4 linked regions of the Homo sapiens genome follow. The protein of the gene in region 1 purifies or fractionates together with the protein of each later gene. This does not show direct contact. Each region holds a gene or a part of one and is shown on either strand. Other genes may lie near its edges.

Evidence for each region. The genes of interacting proteins can lie anywhere in the genome.
Region 2: the proteins of SPX (region 1) and IBA57 purify together in Homo sapiens (affinity purification with mass spectrometry; one large-scale study listed by BioGRID and IntAct). This does not show direct contact.
Region 3: the proteins of SPX (region 1) and CLN5 purify together in Homo sapiens (affinity purification with mass spectrometry; one large-scale study listed by BioGRID and IntAct). This does not show direct contact.
Region 4: the proteins of SPX (region 1) and TBC1D1 purify together in Homo sapiens (affinity purification with mass spectrometry; one large-scale study listed by BioGRID and IntAct). This does not show direct contact.

Annotation. Positions count from the first base shown.
Region 1 is NC_000012.12:21,528,622-21,534,390, forward strand, and holds the end of SPX (spexin precursor), read left to right. Parts: intron 1-379; coding exon 380-463; intron 464-2,515; coding exon 2,516-2,574; 3' UTR 2,575-4,326; downstream 4,327-5,769. UniProt on the Homo sapiens protein: Plays a role as a central modulator of cardiovascular and renal function and nociception. Also plays a role in energy metabolism and storage. Inhibits adrenocortical cell proliferation with minor stimulation on corticosteroid release.
Region 2 is NC_000001.11:228,179,281-228,182,757, reverse strand, and holds the end of IBA57 (iron-sulfur cluster assembly factor IBA57, mitochondrial isoform 1 precursor), read right to left. Parts: 3' UTR 501-3,477; downstream 1-500. UniProt on the Homo sapiens protein: Mitochondrial protein involved in the maturation of mitochondrial [4Fe-4S]-proteins in the late stage of the iron-sulfur cluster assembly pathway. Operates in cooperation with ISCA2 in the maturation of [4Fe-4S] proteins.
Region 3 is NC_000013.11:77,002,081-77,005,617, reverse strand, and holds the end of CLN5 (bis(monoacylglycero)phosphate synthase CLN5), read right to left. Parts: 3' UTR 501-3,537; downstream 1-500. UniProt on the Homo sapiens protein: Exhibits palmitoyl protein thioesterase (S-depalmitoylation) activity in vitro and most likely plays a role in protein S-depalmitoylation.
Region 4 is NC_000004.12:38,048,084-38,051,583, forward strand, and holds part of TBC1D1 (TBC1 domain family member 1), read left to right. Parts: intron 1-1,534; coding exon 1,535-1,815; intron 1,816-3,500. UniProt on the Homo sapiens protein: May act as a GTPase-activating protein for Rab family protein(s). May play a role in the cell cycle and differentiation of various tissues.

The DNA of each region.
Region 1 (5,769 bases):
TTTGTGCTGAATCAGAACAATTTGTCTTTTTTCAACTTAGATTTGAAATAACTTTGAGTTCTTAGCAGATACTCCTTCAGTCAAATAATTACCTTATATTTGGCCGCAAAGGTTAAATTATTATCTAAAATTCTCTTTGGCATATAGTTTAACATTCTCTTCCATACCCTGTTTGTAAACTTGACATAACCAATTGTAAGTCATTTCCAAGGCAATTGTGACATGTTAAAAAATTAGTCTTCTGTGTAAGTAGTCCTTTGTTGAGGGGTCAAAATCTATTTCATAGAGGTTTTTCTAGTATTGCTGCATGTTAGAATAGGACTTATCTACATCAATATATAAATGCTAAGAGAATCTGTATACATTTTTGTTTCTGCAGAAAGACGAAGCCCAAATCCCCAACTACTAACTATTCCGGAGGCAGCAACCATCTTACTGGCGTCCCTTCAGAAATCACCAGAAGGTACTAGCATAGTGGCCTCTTTCACCTGCATAACAGAACAGCTTTGCTTACTTTCGGGATTCTGTGTTGAGTGCAACACCCCTCCCCCAGAATTTCTTGGCCTTAGGCCCAGAAATTCTAATTCTGTACTGCTTGAGTGAGGCCCAAGAATCTCTGTCCTTAAGAAGTTCTTCCACATTATTCTGATGATTGGTCAGGTTTGAAAACAGGAACTTCAGAGCCCGTTAATAAAGGTTGAAATCATGAGAATGGAGATACCTTCTAGGGCTTAGATATAGTGGGAAAAGGGAAGACAATAAAACACCCAAAAATCAAGGGAAATGGGGGGAAATAGTACCAGTGAAGGGACATTAAAAGGAGCAAGCAGAAAGGTAAGAGGAAAATCAGAATAAGAGAGTATCCCAGAATTCATTCAGTAGCTGATGCTACTGATCCCGCTCCTCTTGAAACTTTCCAGGGATGGAAACTATCAGAATGGTTACTATAGCAGAATGGTTAGTAAGAATACAGAACTCAGGGGACATTAAACAGTGTGTCACAGGACTTCCCCCCACCTCCTGCCCAGTGACACAGCTTGCTGCTGCTATTCCATATCTGAAACTTTGTTTACAGAATGTGATACAAGAAAGTAAACTGCAAAGTTAAGAGAAAGCAGGTCTCAGGCTCTGGAGAGCTGGCATGACTCTCAGAACTCTTGCAGTGAAAAGGTGTGAAATAGTTGAATAACGGGTAGAGGATGCTGTATCCAAGGTGTTCTTTTTAAAACCCAAGACATGGAACCCAGCGATTTTTGGAGTCAGTACGAAAAGAGCTCTGATGGAGATTGGTTGATAGTGACGTTTTAGATTTGATTGTTGGGAAAATGTGCAGAGCCAGAAAGGAAAGTGACTTATAATGGACAAGAGAGAGCTAATTTTAAAGAGGAGAGGTATCTTCATTAGCAATTTGAGGAAAGGATGTGATTATAGGTCCCCATCTCAAGTCTTTTTTGGAAAATAAATATGTATTTTTTTAATTATTGAAGTTTTCTAAGTGGATTGTCTCTGAAGATGAAATGACTAATTTTATTAGTCTAAATTGATAGAAAAGTTTTTGATTCCCATATGATAAATTAATCACTAGTCTTCTTTAGTATTTTTATTCTATACTACCTCATTATTATTTAGAAGGCTCTTATTTAGTGAATTATGGTTTCAGTGGAATTTATACAGGGACGCCGTTCTGGTTTTGTTTTGTTTTGTTTTGTTTTCTTCCTTCCCTTTAAAGAGAAGCCCATTTTCTGCAATGGTTTAAAGTGTGCTAGAAATTCAGGTTAAGATGTAACCCAAACATTCAAATTATATTGCAACTAACTGAAAGAATGTGCTTTTATCTAGAGGTGATCTTAGAAGAAATTAGTAGATGCACTTTGCCCCTGGCCACTGCTTCTCCCTACCGTATTGTAACTTTTAGTCATTCTATCCTATTTTTAGAGTCCCAGGAACCTGCTATTGTCTAACTCTTTAAGTATCCCCACCTCAGAAGTGATACCTCATGCTCTAAAGTTTCGCGATCCCAGCCAGCAAACGAGTGCCTCTTCTTTTTGTCTCATTTCCTCCCCAGAACTCTAGCTCCCCTAATAAAAGAACATTTGCAAATGTGTTCCCATGTCATCTTTCCCGAGCAAGATCCATTTTAACAGGAAATATAAAGAGACAGTCCTTTGATGCAAGTGAATTATTTTAATGGTGGGTATTTTAGATATAAGTCAATCTGTGAGAGCAAGACACATGACTTTTGAGATTTTTACCAGACATACCATACTGTAGTTTCAGTCATTATAGAGGTTCAGATGTAAAATATGAATTCCCCAATGTGTCCCAAGCTGAGAAAAAAAGATTTTAAACTGAGCAAATCAAAGCCCATATTGTTTAAATTTTCAGTAGCAGAGTCCATAAGTTAACATAGCTTAGAAGGCTAAATGTTTATTTCCTGAGATTCTCTTTGTCTTACCTTTTCCTCTATTAAAACGCAGAGTGTATATTTATTTTAAAGAATTTTTTTTTCTTACAGATGAAGAAAAAAACTTTGATCAAACCAGATTCCTGGAAGACAGTCTGCTTAACTGGTGAAAATATACTGGATTATGTTTAATTATGGTTCTATTCTCTTTGAAAACATGAACCATGTGAATAAAACCTTTGGACCCTTTTATTCCATTTGTAATCTTAAGAACACACACAGATAGTTTTATTCTTTCAGAAACAAAATATATATAGGATGCTTAGCTGAGAACATCATCTTCTTTCATTGCTTCAGGTCCTGTTTAGATGACCAAAAATGTTTTCAGATCACCTTGTGTCTTACTCTTGAGTTTCTTAGAATATTTATAATTATAAGGCTGAAGACTAAAGTGTTCTTTCCTTTTAACTATAGCCAGTACCTGTCTTGATCTTAGTTGTGTTTTTTTTTCATTTTGTTACCCACTTGCATTTTGTTTTCACTCAGCAGAAATTCTCCTTCTCTGTTTTCCTTTTATCCCATCCCCAAGAATGTGGAAGGAAGGTGAGAAACATGGCAGGATGGGAAATAGGAGAGTATGACTCTCTATAGCTCATCCAGGAGTAATCAATTAAGAAGATAAATTGGATGACTGTGGAGAAGCTCTGTGATAGGAACACTTCAGTGTGGTTGCTGAGAGGAGACAGTCATTGAGGTAGAAGGTTTGCCAAAGATCCAGAGCTCAGAGCTCCCTTTGTGCTCTTTGGGAATTACCTTGCATTCAGTTTAGAAACATGGATCTAAAAGTTACTGGGAAATAAGCAGATGGAGACACACTCTGTTGTTTACGTATTGGAAGAAGGGAACAAGCCAGTTTTGTTAGAGGTAACTCATTTTCCATGACCAAACAGACTCAACAGATTCAAGTACTCTGCTTACTCTAATTGACTAGACTCTAGGTTTTATTTGACATCATAGCATTACATAAATCACTCTGATAACATAAGTGCACAGTAATATGCCTGATCTCTTCCTTTTTAAAAGCCAACTTGAGTTCAGTACCATCTGAATACACACACATGCACATATACCCACACACGCATACACACATACTCCTGTGGCAAACATAATAATGTATTTATTTAGAATTATAATATGACCATCATGTTAATTATTTTTTACCTAATCAGAGTTGTTATTGACAAATGTCATAAGTGGAAAGTATTAATTCTTATTGTCATCAGTATTTAGCCATTATTTAGTAGCTCAAGAATATCTTTATGTGAATGTCTCTGTAACTTGGAATTGCAATTTCACTGTGTTAAGTAATCAGAACTCTGCTTATAAGATTTATCTGTATCTTGTTTCATAATTTAATAATGAAACTAAATTCAAGTTAATGTAATGTTGATCTCCGTCGAAAAATAACTTGTGAGCATTAAAATATCTGTATGGCATTATAATAGGCACCTGTCATTAATTATGATTTGATTTGAAAGTAGACTTACTAGGTAGTGCTTACATCTGATTTATTGAAAATTTTTTCCAAAAGCATTGTCTTTTATTTATACAGTCCTAACCACTTCACCATTAGGAGGGGTGGGACATTAAAAATTATTTACCCATCAGACATAAAATTGTACAAATTGACTATTCAAAATAGTATGTGTATTCAAAGAACACTTTTAACATCTATCTTATGAAATAATTCTTCCTACAACTAACCAGAACAATCTCAAAAATGTCATACTAACCATTGTTTTAAAAGCTGTCTCAATGATCAATAGCTGTTAAAATATAGCTCCAAGTATTCTAAGTACTCAAATTCCTTGAATGTTCTTATGTACAAATATGCTGATTAATTAAAAGGTCCCTCTTCCCAATTTTCTATAACTTTCCAACTCTCTTATGGTGTCTATATTCTGTTTATTTCTAGATTTTTAAAAAACCAAAATGAACAAGTGATCATAGATCAGAAAACCTTCACATTATATGGCTTGTGTTTTAAAATTGGGAATTTTCTGGCTTCAACACACAGATACATGCACTAGAATACCTTGATCTGCAGGGAGCGCTTTCAGCCACTTTCTGCACAGTTCTCATTGCCCTTCTCTTTTTTGCCTCTATAGCCTACCTCGGCTATCTGGCCTCCATCCTGGGCTCTTAATTATTCTTTGTTTTCCAGTAGTTGCCTTCGCTCCCTCAATACCATCATTGTGTTCCTAAGAGAGGAGAGAAGAAGGCGAAGTGACCCTGGCTTGTTCAGATTAGCCTCCAGCTTGCATTTCTTCTTTACCTGGTTATGATAAATGAAAATGTGTATCTTACAATCTTGAATTACATTATTTTATCTTGACCACAAAGAAAGGGAAGTTGGGAATGTAACTTCATTCTGTTCGGTCGCTTCATACTGGGCTATAAATTCCTTTAGAAAGAGCTCATTTTTAATTTGATTTGATCCTCACAACAACTGTGTGAAATGGGCCATTTTATTGCCCTTAGTACTCATAGAAATTTGGGTTCATTCAGTGAAGACTCTTCGGACCTCCCTAAGTAGACTTAACTAGTCCCCCTCCTGAGTCTTCCTTGTACCCTGGAAAACTATTAGTATAACACCTTGTAACATTTATGTTCTCATCTGCATATATAAAACCAGTTCTGTTCACTCTAACTCTTACTATGGAAGAGACAGTAGTATCTTGATCAGTTCAGGCTGCTAAAACAAAATACCACAAACTGTGTGGCTTATAAACAACAGAAATTTATTTCTCACAATTCTGGAGCCTGAGAAGTTCAAGATCAAGGTGTCAACAGAATCAGTGTCTGGTAGAAGGCCCATTTCTCATAGATGGCGCTTTCTTGCTGTGTCCTCACGTGGTGGAAAGGGCAAGGCAGCTCTCTGGGGCCTCTTTTATAAGGGCAGTAATCCTATTCATGAGGGCTCTGTCCACATGATCTAATCACTTCCCAAAGGCTCTGCCTCCTTTGTGGATACCATCACATTGGGGATTAGGATTTCAATACAGACGGGCCCAACTTATGATGGTTCGATTTATGATTTTTCAACTTTATGATGGGATGAAAGCAACACACAGTACACTCCTTGACTTACCATGGATTTATATTCTGATAGGCCCATTATAAATTAAAAATATCAGTGGGCTGGCCAGGCATGGTGGCTCATGCCTGTAATCCCAGCACTTTGGGAGGCCAAGGTGGGCACATCACTTGAGGCCAGAAGTTCAAAGACCAGCCTGACCAATATGCCAACACCCTGTCTCTACTAAAAAGAAAATACAAAAATTAGCCAGCTGTGGTGGCACATG
Region 2 (3,477 bases), on another chromosome or scaffold:
CCCCACCCACCACACACCCCGTCCCCACCATACAAACCCCGTCCTCCCCCACACACCCCATCCCCCCACACACACCCCGTCCCCACCGCACACACCCCGTCCCCACCGCACACACCCCGTCCCCACCGCACACACCCCGTCCCCACCGCACACACCCCGTCCCCAGCACACACACCCCGTCCCCACCGCACACACCCCGTCCCCAGCGCACACACCTCATCTCCCCACCACACACACCCCGTCCCCACCGCACACCTCGTCCCCACCACACACACCCCATCTCCCCACCACACACACCCCGTCCCCACCGCACACCCCATCCCCACCGCACACACCCCGTCCCCACCACACACACCCCGTCCCCACCACACACCTCGTCCCCACCACACACTTCCCGTCCCCCCACCACACACCCCGTCCCCACCATACACACCCCGTCCCCACCACACACACCCTGTCCCGCTTTCCTGCTTCATTTTTCACCATAGAGCCCGTAGCAATAAAATATACTGTGTACTTTATTTTCATTGGCTATAAGCATTCAATACATGGTTGAATGAATGAAGAAATGAATGAATCAATGAAAGATGGACCAGAGCTCAGCCATCTCCCAGTTTTTCTTCAGCAGGACCCCCTGCTATTATTGTCCCTGAGAACTTCTCACTGAGAGAGTCTGACATAAAACAAAATGTATTAATCCTTCATTTCTCCCACAAATGCCGATGCGCACAAACTAAGCTAGCACCATCGCCAGGGAAATCAAAGACGGGGACACTGGAGATGGTCAGATGCCCACAGCCCAGACAGTCACAGTCCTAGCTTGGGCTCCCTGCCCCAGGGTTGGCACGTGGAGCACTGCCCTGGGTCTCCATGGCCCATAGCCAGACAGACCCTTTTTCTTACTTTTCTCAAACCAAGGTGTTCACCCAAGACGTTCAAAATTTAAACACTGAATCTCTAAATGGAAACTAAGAAGACTGACAGCACCAAGCGCTGGCGAGGACGCAGTATGACAAGAACCTGGCACACTTCTGGTGGGAATGTAAATGCTGCACTCACTCCGGGAAAATGTCTGGCAGTTCCTAGCAACACTGAGTTTTCCTGCCCTGTGGCCCAGAGCTCCACCCCAGGGGCTTACCAGAAAGACAGGAAAATGTATGTACACACAACCTGTGCAAGTGTGGAGATGCAGAGACCCCTGAATAAGAACAGGCAAACATTCCTTATTCCCAGCTTGCTAAAGTAAGGGAATCAGTCGCCATCACTCATATTGGGTGGAGATGCCCAGGCTGGCCAGAGGAGTGGGAGAGCTTCCAGGTGAGACAGGGACGGCTCCAGGTGAGCCCTGATGGAGTCTGTGGCCTGGGGAACTAGAGGCAGCTCACAGGAGTGGGCCTCCCATGAGATTGGTGAAGGAAGTGTCTGCCTCCATTTGTGCTGCTACAAGAGAATACCTGAGGCTGACTCATTTACAAGGAACAGAGGTTTATTGGCTCACGGTTCTGGAGACCGGACAGTCCAAGATCCAGGAACTGGCCGACTTGGGAATTCCACCTCCAAGATGGTGCTTTGAACACTGGAGGGCAAGAGAGGCACAAGCGGGCTGGACTTACCCTTTCATAACATTAACTCCGCCCTTGGAGAGTGGAGCCCTCACAGCCTAATCACCTCTTACAGGCCCCATCTCTTAACACTGTTAGAATGGCAATTCAATTTCAACATGAAGTTAGCACAGTGCCTCATGCCCCAATCCCAGCTACTTGGGGACAAGAGTTGAAGACCAGCATTTAAAAACAAAAAATTTTAAAAATTAGCATGCACCTGTGGTCCCAGCTACTCAGGAGGCTGAGGTGGGAAGATCACCTGAGCCCAGAAATTCAAGACCAGCCTGGGCAATGCAGTGAGAACCCCATCTCTACAAAAAGTAAAAAAAAAAAAAAAAAATTAGCTGAGTGTGATGACTCACACCTGTAGTTCCTGCTACTCAGGAGGCTGAGGCAGGAGAATCATCTGAGCCCAGAAGGTTGAGGCTGTAGTGAGCTGTGTTTATGCCACTCCACTCCAGCCTGGGCAAGAGTGAGACTCTGTCTCAAAAAAAAAAAAAACACTCCCAACTACGATTTTGAGTTTGTTCATTTCTCCTTGAAGGACTGGCTTTTAAATTCCATGGTCTTCCCTCTATAGTTTGGAAGATATATTTCCATTCTTTTAGAGATTATCTGAAAACTCTGATAAGCCTTGTAACAGATGCTGAAGTCAGTGTCCGTGCCCTCCTTCCGACCAGTAGGGGGACTTTAGAACACTGTAGGTTTGGGCACCTCTCTCCCAACTCAACATGTGGCATCTTTTTTATAAACTCCAAAAGTAGGCATTCTAAGTAGAAGCTTCTAGATGTGGTGTTTTAGACATGCCCACAAATCCACCTTCCTGCCTATTCACTCCTTCTTCCATCTCCAGCTTCCCCACAGGATCCCTCGCCAGAAGCCCAGACATGCCTTAGACGCTCTAGGCTCTGCTGGCAGCAAACTCCGGAGTGAGGGCAGTTTCGTGGTATGAAAATGCGTTTAGCCCTCTTTTTTTTTTTTTTTTTTTTTTTTTTTTTGAGACAGAGTCTCATTCTATTGCCCAGGCTGGAGTGCAATGGCACAATCTTGGCTCACTGCAACCTCTGCCTCCTGGGTTCAAGTGATTCTCCTGCCTCAGCCTCCCGAGTAGCTGGGATTACAGGAATATGCCACCACACCCAGCTAATTTTTATATTTTTAGTAGAGACAGGGTTTCACCATGTTGATCAGGCTGGTCTTGAACTCCTGACCTCAGGTGATCCACCTGCCTTGGCCTCCCAAAGTGCTGGGAATACAGACGTGAGCCACTGCGCCTGGCCCCTCATTCTTGAAAGACGGATTTTCTGGGTACACAATTCTAGGCTATCACTATTTTCTCCCAGGACTTTGAAGATATTATTTACTATCTTTCTGGCTTCCACTGTTGCTTTTAATCAACTACTTATTTTCTTCTTTCCAGATAATCTCTTTCTTTTCTGCCTTAAGATCTCTTTGTCATGAGATTCTGTACTTTCACCAAGACGTGACTGTTTGGGTAGAGCTTTTTAACTATGCTGCTTGGGAGCTGCTGGTTCCTGAACCTAAGGAGCAGGGGCTCCTGTTGGTTTGGGAAAGTTCTCAGCCGTATTTCTCTGAATACTTGCCTCCACCCCATATTCTCTTTCCCCTCCTTCTGGAATTACTCGTAAATTGCGGATGTCATACTAAACTCTCCATCTTCTTGTCTCATCCCATCTCATATTTTCCAGCTCTGTCTTTCTGTGCTGCACTTTGGGTCATTTCTTCAAACAGTTCCCGATTCTTCAGGAAACACATCATGGAATATTTTTTAGAGTATTTTATTTTTATTTCAACAAGTTCTCTTTTTAAAATCTGCTTGGTCATTTTTATAGTCTCTTGCTTCCTGTGCATA
Region 3 (3,537 bases), on another chromosome or scaffold:
CCTACAGCAACATATGAGAAGAAAAAAGGCTTATCTAGATTCGAAAATTAACAGCAATTATAGTAATATATCCCCTCCTTCTAAATAGTAAAAAGCTCTGATTGTACAAGAATTACCTGTGCTAGTCAAGTTGTTGTTTTTCCTTGAACAACTTTGGAAAAATGGATTTGACAGTACATAATCAGTTCTACTAACCAAAGCTTGTATTTGGAAATTTACTTTTTGTACAAATTGAATTATATAATGCTTAAAATACTTTGTCACTTTATAAGCAAAATGCATAGTACTTAATTTGTTTATACTGTAAAGTATATGTTAAATGCTTTTATCACTTTGAGAATAAAAAGTTACTAATGCTGTTGTATTTTACTTTTTAAAAACTACACAAACATTTGACTTTAAACTTAAAAATGTTTCAAATCCATATTTGATGGATATAATATTTAATATTAAACAATGTTTATGATAGACTCGCCTTTTTGAAGATACAAGGTTAGGCTCATGGAATCTATTCTTGAAATAAGCTCTGATGCCTAAAGAAATAGGAAATTTAAAACCTACCATGAAATATAAATTTTTAAATTTTTATACAGAAAATAATAGGTTCTTTCTGCATTCAGAATGAGAACTTATAAAACAGATTATTTAGACATAGAATCAGTCTTTAAGGGTCCTTGAACCCAACCAGTCTTTTTAGAGATAAATGTCTTTATATAAATTAGAATAGTTTTTCAACTATTGAAATTATTTTCATTGTTTTACTGGCTTTCAACTTATCTTGGTAATTTGGGCTGTTGTAACCATATCAGAAAAAATAGGTATGATTGAAGATTAAGTCAATTTAGTGCATTTTAAGAACTTTAGGCTGAAAGGAAGACGTTCATGTGAAGAAGGTTCAAGCCTCCACTAGGTCCTTTAAAATTTTTTTTTTTTACACTAGGTCCTTTAACACACTATAATTTCTACCCCACACATAGATAGTAATGAGCTTTGCACAGACTCCAACCCCAGTTTGTGGGGCTGGTTTTAATTTTACCAGGCAGGAAAATTCCAGCTGCTTGCTGACACCCAACTTTAAAAAGGGCACAAAGCCTTTTACTCCGAAAGTGAAGTAAGAGCTTATCCTTAGAATAATCAGTCCAATAAAAGGATAAATAATCCTAACTTGTTTTAAGTAGGAGACAAAATTTTGAAAGGAAGGTTTGAAGAGCAGGAAACCACTTGGATAATAAAGGGTAAATATGACGAAGATGCTGGAAACACTTTGGCCAGCCTGTTTGCCTTTGTGAACAGGGAAAAAGCATGTGTGTAGTTTTGGAACATCACTCTTTGTATAGCCTGCCAACTATTTAAAAAATAAAACATCTTACAGGAACTATAATTCCAGGTAATTCATTAAGTGCCACCACAGCAGACCATAAAACTGGATAAGACTTCCTAAGACTTGATTTTTTTCTCCAATTTTTAAGGAGCCACCAATATTGAGGGTTCCAAATAAAGTTAGTAGGTTTCTTCACTGTGTTTTCCTCTACATGCAACAATATATTAGATGACACTTTGTGGGTATACTTACTTAACTAATTTTGTGCCAGATTAATGAGGAGATATATTCACTCTAAAGCCCTAGTCAGACTAAAAATGTATAAATTTTATACATCTACAACATTTTTTTGAGACGGAGTCTCACTCTGTTGCCAGGCTGGAGTGCAGTGGTGCGATCTTGGCTCGTGGGAACCTCCACCTCCTGGATTCAAGTGATTCTCCTGCCTCAGCCTCCCAAGTAGCTGGGACTACAGGCATGCTCCACCACAACCAGCTAATTTTTGTATTTTCAGTAGAGACGGGGTTTCACCATGTTGGCCAGGCTGGTCTCGAACTCCTGACCTCAAGTGATCCGTCCACCTTGGCCTCCCAAAGTATGTGTTAGGATTACAGGCATAAGCCACCGCACCCAGCCTACATCTATAACAATAGCAAAATAGAAACTGCATTTAAGTTGTACTTAAGTTATAATTAAAGTAAATCACATTAAGTCATATTGCTCAAAGGGCAGCAAAACTTAATTGGCAGATTTCTGCGTGGCTATGTTTTGGTTTCTCAACTACTATTTTGAAAGCATGTTCTTGAATCATCTTCACCTGAAAGCTCTACATCTTGTAAGTAGAGCTGACAGGTTTAATTCTTAAGAAATACTTTTGTAAATGTTAATGCTGTCTGTGCTGTAGTTACCTGACTTTATGATGCTTTCTGTCTTCATTTAATTAAGATTCTTAGGAACAATGAAAAATCTTGAATGCTTTTTTTTTGAGACGGAGTCTCGCTCTGTCGCCCAGGCTGGAGTGCAGTGGCGCCATCTCAGCTCACTGCAACCTCTGCCTCCTGGGTTCAAGTGATTCTCCTGCCTTAGCCTCACGTGTAGCTGGGATTACAGGCATGGACCACCACCCCTAGCTTTTTTTTTTTTTTTTTAATTTTAGGAGAAACGGGGTTTCACCACATTGGCCAGGCTGGTCTTGAACTCCCGACCTTCAGTGATCCTTCCACCACCTCAGTTTCGCAAAGTGATAGGATTACAGGCGTAAGCCACTGTGCCTACTCAAAAATCTTGAATGCTTTTTTCACATAACTATTAGAATCTTGTTTAAAAGTTCCAGGTACAGATATCCTCATTTGTTTTCCCTGCATAACCAAGTTCTTTGATTTGCAGTTGACCAAAACTTGGTACAAGAATCTTTGTCTCTTCAAGGCAGTTCTGGAAATCCAAAATCCTGTAGTTTTTCCAGAGCAATTTCCTGAGTTTGGTAGAAGTTCGTGTTGCCTGAGTTTAGCCACTAGATGGTGATAATGCACAGATCCAAGTTTTCTTGTAACATTGTGAAAACAATTAGCAGGTTAAAGAGGCAGTATTAATTTGGAATATTTAGGCATTATTATAAGGAGTCGACAGGCTAAAGGAGGCGTGAAAGAAAGTTCTCCCTCTGTATTTGAGGAAGATATCTGGTGACTGGGTTATTTTCAGACTGTTGTGGGACTACAGTTGAAAAAAAAAAACCCAGCAAAAATGAATTCCTAGACAAAATAAGACCAAAGACACATAAAATACAAGCTCCAATTTTTTTAATTAGACCCAACAGAAACAAAAACACTCCAATAAATTGTTTATAAAAGCTTCCTGTCAGTATCTGTACTTATTTCCTCACAGACCAGTAACATCTGGTTGGCAGGCACTGGTCTGAGGACCACACTTCGGTGCTAAAAGCCTGTACTATAGTGCATCCAATTCAGTCAGCAGAACCGGGGTTCAAGACCTGACTTCATTACTACTAGCTGGATAGCCAGAGAAAGATCACTTAGCCTTTCTAAGGTCCACTTTACTCATTTGGATCAGGTTAATTATATCTATGATTAAGCTTTCTGTGAGAGCTCAATAATAATGTACTAACCTCTCAGGAAGTACTTGAAAGTTGAAACTGAATCACATAATTGGTACATTTACATATTAAACGTGAATTGTTTTATCTGATATCTACTCCATCT
Region 4 (3,500 bases), on another chromosome or scaffold:
GCTGCTTGTATGTATTGTATATGTTTAAGTGTACTTTACATCTTTCTTTTATTCATCTTGAATTGAGAAACTACTATATTCTATTTTATGTAATTGGATCCCTTCTAAAAAATTGATCACCTAGGAGTTGCAAAGAAACCAAATAGCCCTGAAACTTGACAAATGAAAATGGCCCTTTCAGTTGTCCAATTAAGCTAAGGGTTAGCTCTTTGATATGATTTGGAGGGATATTAGTAAGAATTTAGATCAACAGGTTTGCATGATGGAGATTGTGTTCTGTGATGTATTGTCTTAGAGAGACTTTTAAATCCTTAAAAGAATCTTCACAACTGTTGAGTCCTGAAGAATGAAAAACTTCAGTTATGAAAGTAATCAATATTTCATAGTATGTTGGGAATTTTTTCCTAATTCTTATACAATTAAATGTATGTAACTTCTCCCTTTGGTAAACACATTTCTTTTTTTTTTTTTTTCAAATTAAAACCCTCAATACTTGTTACCTAAAAGGCACTCAACTGTGTAAATGAACAGGTAGAATTCAGTCTCCAGTCCACTGTTAGATGCATTCATTCTTGTTTACTCTATTCCTGTTGATTTATTTTTTCTCTTCCAACAATTTCAATAGGAGCAAGCTGCTACAATTCCTCTTTTTGAATATTTTGAATATATTAAAAATATATTGGCCACTAGCCACGTCCTGGGTGCAGTGTTAAACATCAGTTTGCTTGAGTGGTAGTAGTTCATTCCTTTGAAAAAGCGTGCATCGTGAAGGCATACAACTTTAAAATATTGTCATGATTCTCAACAAATGTTTGAGCACTCACTCCATAGATTTATTGCATACCTAATAAAACAATAACTTATGTTTGTGTAACATTTTACAACATAAAAAGTACTTTTGGTTGTATCATCTTGCTTTGTTCTTGAAACTCAGATACATTTTTACTTTACCCTCTTACAGAAGAAATTGAGGTGCAGAAAGAAATTATTTGCCCTGAATTGCAGCAGTAAGTGCCTACAGAGTGATTTTCCATATTCTAAGAATATTGATACAGTTCTTAATCTCAAATTATGAAGTCGAATCTCAACAGTAGATCAGATTCGGAGAGAGCCTTAAAATGTGGGTTTAACATGAGTGAACACATGTGGCAAAGATAAAGAACTTGGTTAAGCAGTGGAGACAAGTTCTCCAGCACTCACACCCCTTAGAAGCTGCAGTAAACAGTCCTGTTTTCTAGAGAGAGGGCACTATTCATGGCGTTGTTCAGAACGTTACAGATTGTGGCTTATGTCCTTCACTCCTGCACTTGGCCAGTCTCCCCATTTCTCCAGCAAGCCAGCAGTGTGTCCTTGAGGAGCGGGCATTTATTTAATGGACCTTCATTTTCTTCTGCTTTTGGTGGTGGCTTCTAGATGGCATTATAATCAGAACACATACTTAGATACTGCAATGTTTGCCCGTGCAGGAACTAGAGATTTATAAATCCCACATATTCCCCATGGTGTGTCTGATCTGCTGTGTGTTTGCTCCCAGGAGCCATCTGTGTGTGAAAAGGAGGCCTTGCCCATCTCTGAGAGCTCCTTTAAGCTCCTCGGCTCCTCGGAGGACCTGTCCAGTGACTCGGAGAGTCATCTCCCAGAAGAGCCAGCTCCGCTGTCGCCCCAGCAGGCCTTCAGGAGGCGAGCAAACACCCTGAGTCACTTCCCCATCGAATGCCAGGAACCTCCACAACCTGCCCGGGGGTCCCCGGGGGTTTCGCAAAGGAAACTTATGAGGTATCACTCAGTGAGCACAGAGACGCCTCATGAACGAAAGTAAGATTTGTTTAAATTTGTTGCATAAATAGCTGGGGCATATCTGTGACTAGCCAGGTATGTGCATCCCAGGTATGTTTATTGAGTGAGAGAAATGAGTCAGGCTTTACTCTTGGTTTGGAGATAAAACTGGAAGCAGTGACATGTTCGTTCGAGCTGCTTGTGAGTATACAAGCAATGGGTACTTGTATTGTCAGGAAGCAAGTGAAAGTGAGCAAAAATGGTACCTAACATGCATAGTCATTACTCCTCAAACAAAGTAAGAGACGTTGTTGACTGTGGAACTTTGCTGCTGTGAGGAAGAGGGCAAGCGGATGAGTCTCCCCATCTGAAGCCCTGGAGCAGGGTTATAATGGGAGGGAGAGGCGCTGATCCTTACAGGCAGAGCAAGAGAGGTATGCTGGCCTCATAGGGTGACAGGGGTGCTTCAGCTTCTGGTCCTAGCTCTGCCGTGAACTAATTGTGACCTGGACGAATTTGCTAAATTCTCTGAATAACAAAATTGGAGTAGATGTTTTCTAAAATCTCTCACTGTAAGAATTCTAGATTCTTCTAACAAGATTTATTCATTGTAATAGTTGGGTTCCTGTGACCAGTTAGAATCGTCTGGTTATGGAGAAGAGTAATCAGAAGTTCCCCCCATTCCTTCCAAGTGTCCCTTAGTGATTCATTTAACTCTGTGTGCCAGAGACTATAAATGGACACAGTTATCTTTAAAAACAACTTTAAACAATTTTAAAAATCTCTCACCTAATATGAATCAAGGTCACACCTGTGTACAGTCGCTGCCTTCTTCTGACCAGCAGCCGCAGAAGTCCCAGGACCTATGTGTTCGTGTAGTTCATACACGGATCATTGAGAGTGTGAGTTAGTACAGAAGTGTTTGGAATGTTCTGAGTAAAGAAGTGTGAGCATTAACAGTCCTGGATGATGGAGCAGAGCCTCCCAGCTTTGTTTTCTGTCAGCCATTGGAAAGAGTTCTTGGTTCTTTGGAATTCAGCGGGGTAGTGGTGATCCCAAAAGCAGGGGACATGTCAGAAGGTACTGCTTAATAAATACACGCTTTTAGAGACACACATCGTTGGGTTGTAGCTGTGTAAGTTTCTTGTGTTTAACACCCTGTCTGCACATTACTTCTGTGCTGCCTCACCACTGCCTGCCCACTCCTCTGTTGTTGGCGTTTTCAGTGATCATTGAAACATTCCTGTCTGGAGAGTCCTAGTTCTCTTGTGAAGTCTGCTGTTTCTCAAAAGCCAGAGTTGATAGGACTTAGTATCAGTACTTTTCCTTTCTCCATGAAGAATGTAGCTTTATAATAGATGATGTCACACATCCGTAATGGGAGGGATGAGGAGATGCCTGTCTGTCTGCCTCTCTAGCATGGCCCATTCTGCTTTCTTTCCCCCTTGTGAGCTCTTTTCCGATTTATCTACAGGAAATAAGACATTGAAATTCAGGGCAGGATATTGTTCATTTTAAAGGGAAATGTATTTTTTAAAGTTCAGTTTTTTTTTGCTTTTGTTTATACTTTAATTAAAAATTTTTTTTCCTGCCAGTTCCTGAAAAAGAAAATAGAGAAAGAAATATTATTGTTCCTGGGCGAAGTGGCTCACTCCTGTAATCCCAGAGCTTTGGGAGACTGAGGTGGGAGGTTGCTTGAGGCCAAGAGTTCAAGGTCACAGTCA